2 separate regions of the Homo sapiens genome follow, and region 1 is linked to region 2. The links come from fine-mapping of genetic effects on gene expression. A gene starts in region 2. The other region holds a variant in brackets. All regions are shown on one strand. Distances are between the middles of the regions.

Region 1 (2,898 bases), 33 kb after region 2:
TCCACCTGCTTTGGCCTCCCAAAGTGCTGGGATTACAGGCGTGAGCCACGACACCCAACTTGGATTTCTTCATTGTTAGTGAATGATGAATGTGGAGGATCTATGAGTTAGTTGATCCGATACAGCTTGTGCATGGAGATGAATTGAGATTTGATGCAGTTGGCAGTTTAGGGTCATTATGGTTGTGTGAACCAGTGAATAACTTGGTGAAAACAGTGTTAATAAAGTTAATCTTGGCCAGGCACATGGTGGCTCAGGCTCGTAAGCCCAGCACTTTGGGAGGCTGAGGTGGCAGAATTGCTTGAGCTTAGGAGTTTGAGACCAGCCTGGGCAACGAAGACCCTGTTTCTAGAAAAAATAAAAAAAATTAGCCAGGCATGGTGGCACGTGCCTGTGGTCCCAGCTACTTAGGAGGCTGAGGTGGGAGGATCGCTTGAGTGCAGGAGGTAGAGGCTGCAGTGAGTCGATTTTTCCACTGCACTCCAGCCTGGGTGACAGAGCGATACCCTGTCTCAGAAAAAAAAAGATTAATCTTATAGTCATATGTGGAAGAATTTGAAAGGACAATTGGAAAGCTGAAAGATCGTCTGAGAGTTTTGGGAATCCTGACTCCAGGATGAAATGCGAGGGACAAATCAGGAGAGATGCCTCAAAGGAGCTGGTGATCTGAAGCTGATCATCATCTAAGTAGAGAGGAAGGGAGAAAAATCCTGGAGGGTTAGTGGTGCCACTTGTATAAATGGAAACATGGAAGAGGTGAGATTCTTCTTCTTCTCTTTTTTTTTTTTGAGATGGCGTCTCGCTCTGTCACCCAGGCTGGAGTGCAATGGCGCGATCTCAGCTCACTGCAACCTCCGCCTCCTGGGTACAAGCAATTCTCCTGCCTCAGCCTCTTGCGTAGCTGGGATTACAGGCGCATGCCACCACACCTGGCTAACTTTTGTATTTTTAGTAGAGACGGGGTTTCACCATGTTGGCCAGGCTGGTTTTAAACTCCTGACCTCAAGTGATCCACCCGCCTCGGCCTCCCAAAGTGCTGGGATTACAGGCCTGAGCCACTGCACCTAGCTGAAGAGGTGAGATTCTTCTTCACTATTAGGAATGGTGTTTGTACTGTCATCTTACAAACCACACTGACACCTCCCCATGCCTTTTCTCATGTGGTTGTAGAGGTGGTTCCTGCGGTGGTTGAGAGGTGGC[C/T]AGATGGATTCTGAAGCCTCTCATCTTTGTGAGTCTATGATCCATGTTCCTCCCCACCTTTTTTTTTCAATTTTTTTAGAGTCAGGGTCTCACTCTCTTGCCCAGGCTGGAGTGCAGTGGTGTGATCATGATCACTGCACCCTCAAACTCATGGGCTCAAGTGATCCTCCTGCCTCAGCCTTCCAAGTAGCTGAGACTGTAGGCATGCACCACCATACCTAGCTATTTTTAAAAATTTGTTTGTAGGGCTGGGTGTGGTGGTTCACACCTATAATCCCAGCACTTTGGGAGGCCGAGGTGGGTGGATCACTTGAGGTTAGGAGTTCAAGACCAGCCTGGCCAACATGGTGAAACCCTGTCTCTACTAAAAATACAAAAATTAGCCGGGCGTGATGGCGCACACCTGTAATCCCAGCTATTTGGGAGGCTGAAGCAGGAGAATTGCTTGAACCCGGGAGGCAGAGGTTGCAATGATCTGAGATCTCGACACTGCACTCCAGCTTGGGCAATAGAGTGAGGCTCTGTCTCAAAAAAAAAAAAAAAAATTGTTTGCAGACACCAGGTCTCGCTATGTTGCCCAGGCTGGTCTCAAACTCCTGGGCTCAAGTGATCTTCCTGCCTTGGCCTCCCAAAGTGCTGGGATTACAGACGTAATCCTATACACCACACCCGGCTGGAACACTCTCTGTGGTTGATGTTTGTCATTCTTTTCAGCACTCAGGTTCTAACCCCCCTTCTTGGAGTGTGGGAATCCCATGTCTTATGAATTTAGGGAGCAGATAGACCAACCTCCCAGAGTAGTATTTGCAATTTCCAGATATTCACTTTTGCAGCGTTGTTTCTGGGCATAGCATGGGCATGTCAGCTGGACTCTGCCCATCTGTGCACCTGCCAGACTTTGCTCCAGGAGAGACTGGGGTGGGCATGAGGAGATGGAAAGTAGTTAAGACCCTGGCAGAAGGACAGAGGATCAAGTTCCTAGGGTGGCAGTGGAGTGGCGCTATTAGCGGTGTCTTGCATCCACAGGACAGGCAGGGGCACAGGTTTGATGTGGGGCATTGTTCCTAGTGCAATAGTGTGAGACCTCCCTCCAATTTGGTTCTCTGGCTGCCCCAGCAATTCCCTGAAATGCCCAATTTCCTTCCTTCCTTCCTTCCTCCCTCCCTTCCTTCCTTGCTTCCTTCCTTCCTTCCCTCCTTCCTTCCTTCCTTCCTTTCCTTCCCCTTCTCCTCCTCCTCCTTTTTTTTTTTTTTTTTTTGGAGCCTCACTCTGTCGCCCAAGCTGGAGTGCAATGGTGTGATCTCGGCTCACTGCAGCCTCCGCCTCCAGGGTTCAAGCAATTCTCCTGCCTCAGCCTCCCGAGTAGCTGGGTTTACAGGTGCCCACCACCATGCCCGGCTAATTTTTGTATTTTTAGTAAAGACGGGGTTTCACCATGTTGGCCAGGCTGGTCTCAAACTCCTGACCTCATGTGATCCACATGCTTGGACTCCCAAAGTGCTGGGATTACAGGTGTGAGCCACTGCACCCAGCCGGTTTCCATTTTTTAAAAATAAAATGAAATAAAGTAAGTATTCCATTGTCATCTCAAACTTCACTTGCCAAAAACGTGTTGCCACTTCCTTCCCCTGAAATTATCCCCTCTTGGTTTTCCATTGTGGTTGATGTTACTGCCTTTTTCTAGCCTTGCAAGCTGTA
Region 2 (2,898 bases):
TTTATTTTGAGTTGGATTCTCGCTCTGCCGCGCAGGCTGGAGTGCAGTGGCACGATCTCGGCGCATTGCAATCTCTGCCTCCCGGGTTCAAGCGATTCTCCTGCCTCAGCCTCCCAAGTAGCTGAGATTACAGGTGCAGGCCACTGTGCCCGGCTGATTTTTGTATTTTTAGTAGAAACGGGGTTTCGCCATGTTGGCCATGCTGGTCTTGAACTCCTGACCTCAGGTGATCCTCCCACCTCGGCCTCCCAGAGTGCTGGGATTACAGGCATGAGCCACCGTGCCCGGCCAGGCCAGGCTAATTGTTGTATTTTTAGTAGAGACGGGGTTTCACCATGTTGGCCAGGCTGGTCTCGAACTCCTGACCTCAAGTGATTCCCCCGCCTCGGCCTCCCAAAGTGCTGGGATCACAGGCTTGAGCCACCGCACCCAGTCTTGAGCTCACTTTATAGGTGGGATGGAGAACCTTGTAGGAGTTAAGAGCCTGGGCCACCGCCTTATTAGAGCAGGGGCAGCGCTGCACCCACCCGGGTCCCAGCTCCACACTTCCCTCTTCCTCCCCAGCCACCAGGATCAGCGTGGGGTGCAGCGCCTCCTGAGTGCAGAGGTCTGTGTGAATGTGCCTGGGTGTGCGCTGTGTACCTGGAGGTCTTTCTGCCTGCTGTCCCGTGGGGTACATTGTGGATTTAGGGGCCTTGTGCACCCGGGGAACCAGGGTGCTCAGGCACCCACGCAGTGGTGAGAAGATGGAGAGATCTTGGCCTCCCTCTGCCCTTTTCAGCCTTTCAACTTCTGTCTCTTGATGTCTCTTCGCCTTCCCGGTGTTCTAGGGTTTCTGATTCCCTCTATCAGTTTCCGGGGACGAAGGCTCGGAGTCCCCTTCCCAGCCGCTCTTATAATGGAGAGAGGAGATTCCATTGAGGGGTGGCTCCTGGAGGAGGGGTACTTCAGGGCAGTGGGGGACCCCCGGACAGAGAACGGAGGTGCTGGGCGTGGGGTGGGGAGATAACTAAGCCAGCAACACCAGCATCACCACCACCAAAACCCGAGACACCACCATCCTCAGTCCCACTCCCCAGCCGGGACACAGGGCGGAGTCTCGCCAGTAGGGCTTGAGGCCACCCAGCTGCCCAGGGCGCACCCCGACCCCCGGCCCCGCCAGCAGGGCACGAGTCCGCTCCGGATCCGTCCCGGGTTTCTTCCGCGTCGCCGGGGTCTCCGCCCCTCGAAGCTGCCGCCGGAGCGTCGCCGGGGGAGCCACGCGTGCCACCCGAACCCCTGAACCGATGGGCGCCCCGGCCCGCGTCGCCAACGGAGCTGCGGCGCTGCCCCAGCGCTGACCGACGTTAGAGTCGGGCTCCGACAGCGCGGCCGAGTCCCCGCGCGTCATCCTCCTTTGACTCTTGGGGGCTCCAAAGGGACCTCTCTCTTGGCACCGGGGGTGTCTGCGCCCGCCGCCCGCCCCGCTTGGCTTTGCGGCATCTCGGCCCTGGCTCCAGCTCCGGCTCCGGCGAGGTAGGGGGGCGGCCGGGCCTGGGGACTGGGGAGGGGGCTAGCGTGCTCCTCCACCGCAGAATGGGGCAGCAGAAGGCCACCGCCCCTCAGGGGGACCAAGCGGCTGCGCCCCCTTCTGCCCAGCCCCTCCCAGTCCGAAGACCCAGAAAACTGAGTCAGAGGCTGCGCTTCAGGTGTCCAGAAGCGCTCCCCCGCCCCCCTCTGTTGCCATGTCGCTCCCACCTGTCCCCAGGGTCCGGCGCCCAGGGGAACCCCCGCCAAGCAGATCGCTCCCTTTGCAATCTCCCTCTCCCCCAAGCCCAAGCCCCCAATCCGGGGTAGAGGCAGAGGGAAGACCCTCACTCGGGAAGACCCTGCAGGACAGCCCCCCCTTCTCCACTACTGTGGCCCTCTGGGGCCCTCCCCCCACCCCCTTTGGCTGGGCCATCTTCCTCGGCCCCTGCCTCTGCCCACCCCCTAGGCCTTCTCTCCCGCCCCCACTTCATCGCCTCTCCCCGTCTCTGTTTCCAAGGTTGTTCTCTTACGGCCTTTTTTCTGACTTTCTTTTCCCCTTGACCCCTTCCCCTCCACGGATCCCCGCCCCCCATACCCCGGGGCGAAGGGGGTGTGTCACGCTGCTTTCTATTTACAGTGTCCCAGGGGAGGGGGTGCGTGCTAGGATTTTTTTTTTTTCATCTGCTGGGCCCAGAGTCACGAGGTGTCATGTCTGTGATTCGGTGTCGAAGCCTCCTCCGGCTTCCCTGCCTGTCCCCTGCGGCCGCATCTCCTGTCCGCTTTTGTCTGCTCTCTGCCTCCATTCCCGTCCTTTTCGCTCTCATCTTTGGGCGCTTTGTGCAGCTGCCTTCTTTGTCTCCGCCTCTCCGGCGACTGGGCTCTCCCTTCCCTCCCTCTCCTCCCTCCCCCAGTGTCAAGAAGCCATCGGCCTCAAGGGCATCGATATTTCAGGTGTGTGGGGTGTGGTGGGAGTGGGGTGCGGGTGGGTGGGCTGCCGGCATTCCCAGCTCTGACTCCGATCATGCCCAGCTATGACTCTGATCACCCCCTCCCCAAAGAGATCATTCATATTTATGAGATTTAAAGAATGTCCCCAAGGATGTGGGGATAGACATGAAGAGAGAAATGTTATTCCTCTTTTTTTTTTTTTTTTTTTTTGACAGCGTTTCACTCTTGTTGCCCAGGCTGGAGTGCAATAGCGTGATCTCGGCTCACCACAATCTCGGCCTCCCGGGTTGAAGCGATTCTCCTGCCTCAGCCTCCTGAGTAGCTGGGATTACAGGAATGCGCCAGCACGCCCGGCTACTTTTGTATTTTTTTTTTTTTTTTTTTTTTTTAGTAGAGAGAGGGTTTCTCCATGTTGGTCAGGCTGGTCTCCAACTCCTGACC

Evidence for each region. PIP is the estimated chance that this variant, and not a neighbour inherited with it, causes the effect. A credible set is the group of variants that fine-mapping cannot tell apart.
Region 1: its variant is the best candidate, but not a certain one, in a credible set for the expression of NAT16 in thyroid (GTEx, PIP 0.77).

What each region holds. Positions count from the first base shown.
Region 1 is chr7:101,145,434-101,148,331 of GRCh38, reverse strand. No RefSeq gene overlaps it. Among named protein-coding and RNA genes, the nearest start is that of AP1S1, 7.6 kb to the left of the region's middle. The variant C/T (reference allele first, on the strand shown) is at 1,201.
Region 2 is chr7:101,178,659-101,181,556 of GRCh38, reverse strand. NAT16 (N-acetyltransferase 16 (putative)) reads left to right here and starts at 1,264. Exons shown (of 4, transcript NM_198571.3): 1 at 1,264-1,515. RefSeq lists a silencer at 1,095-1,389 and an enhancer at 761-1,483.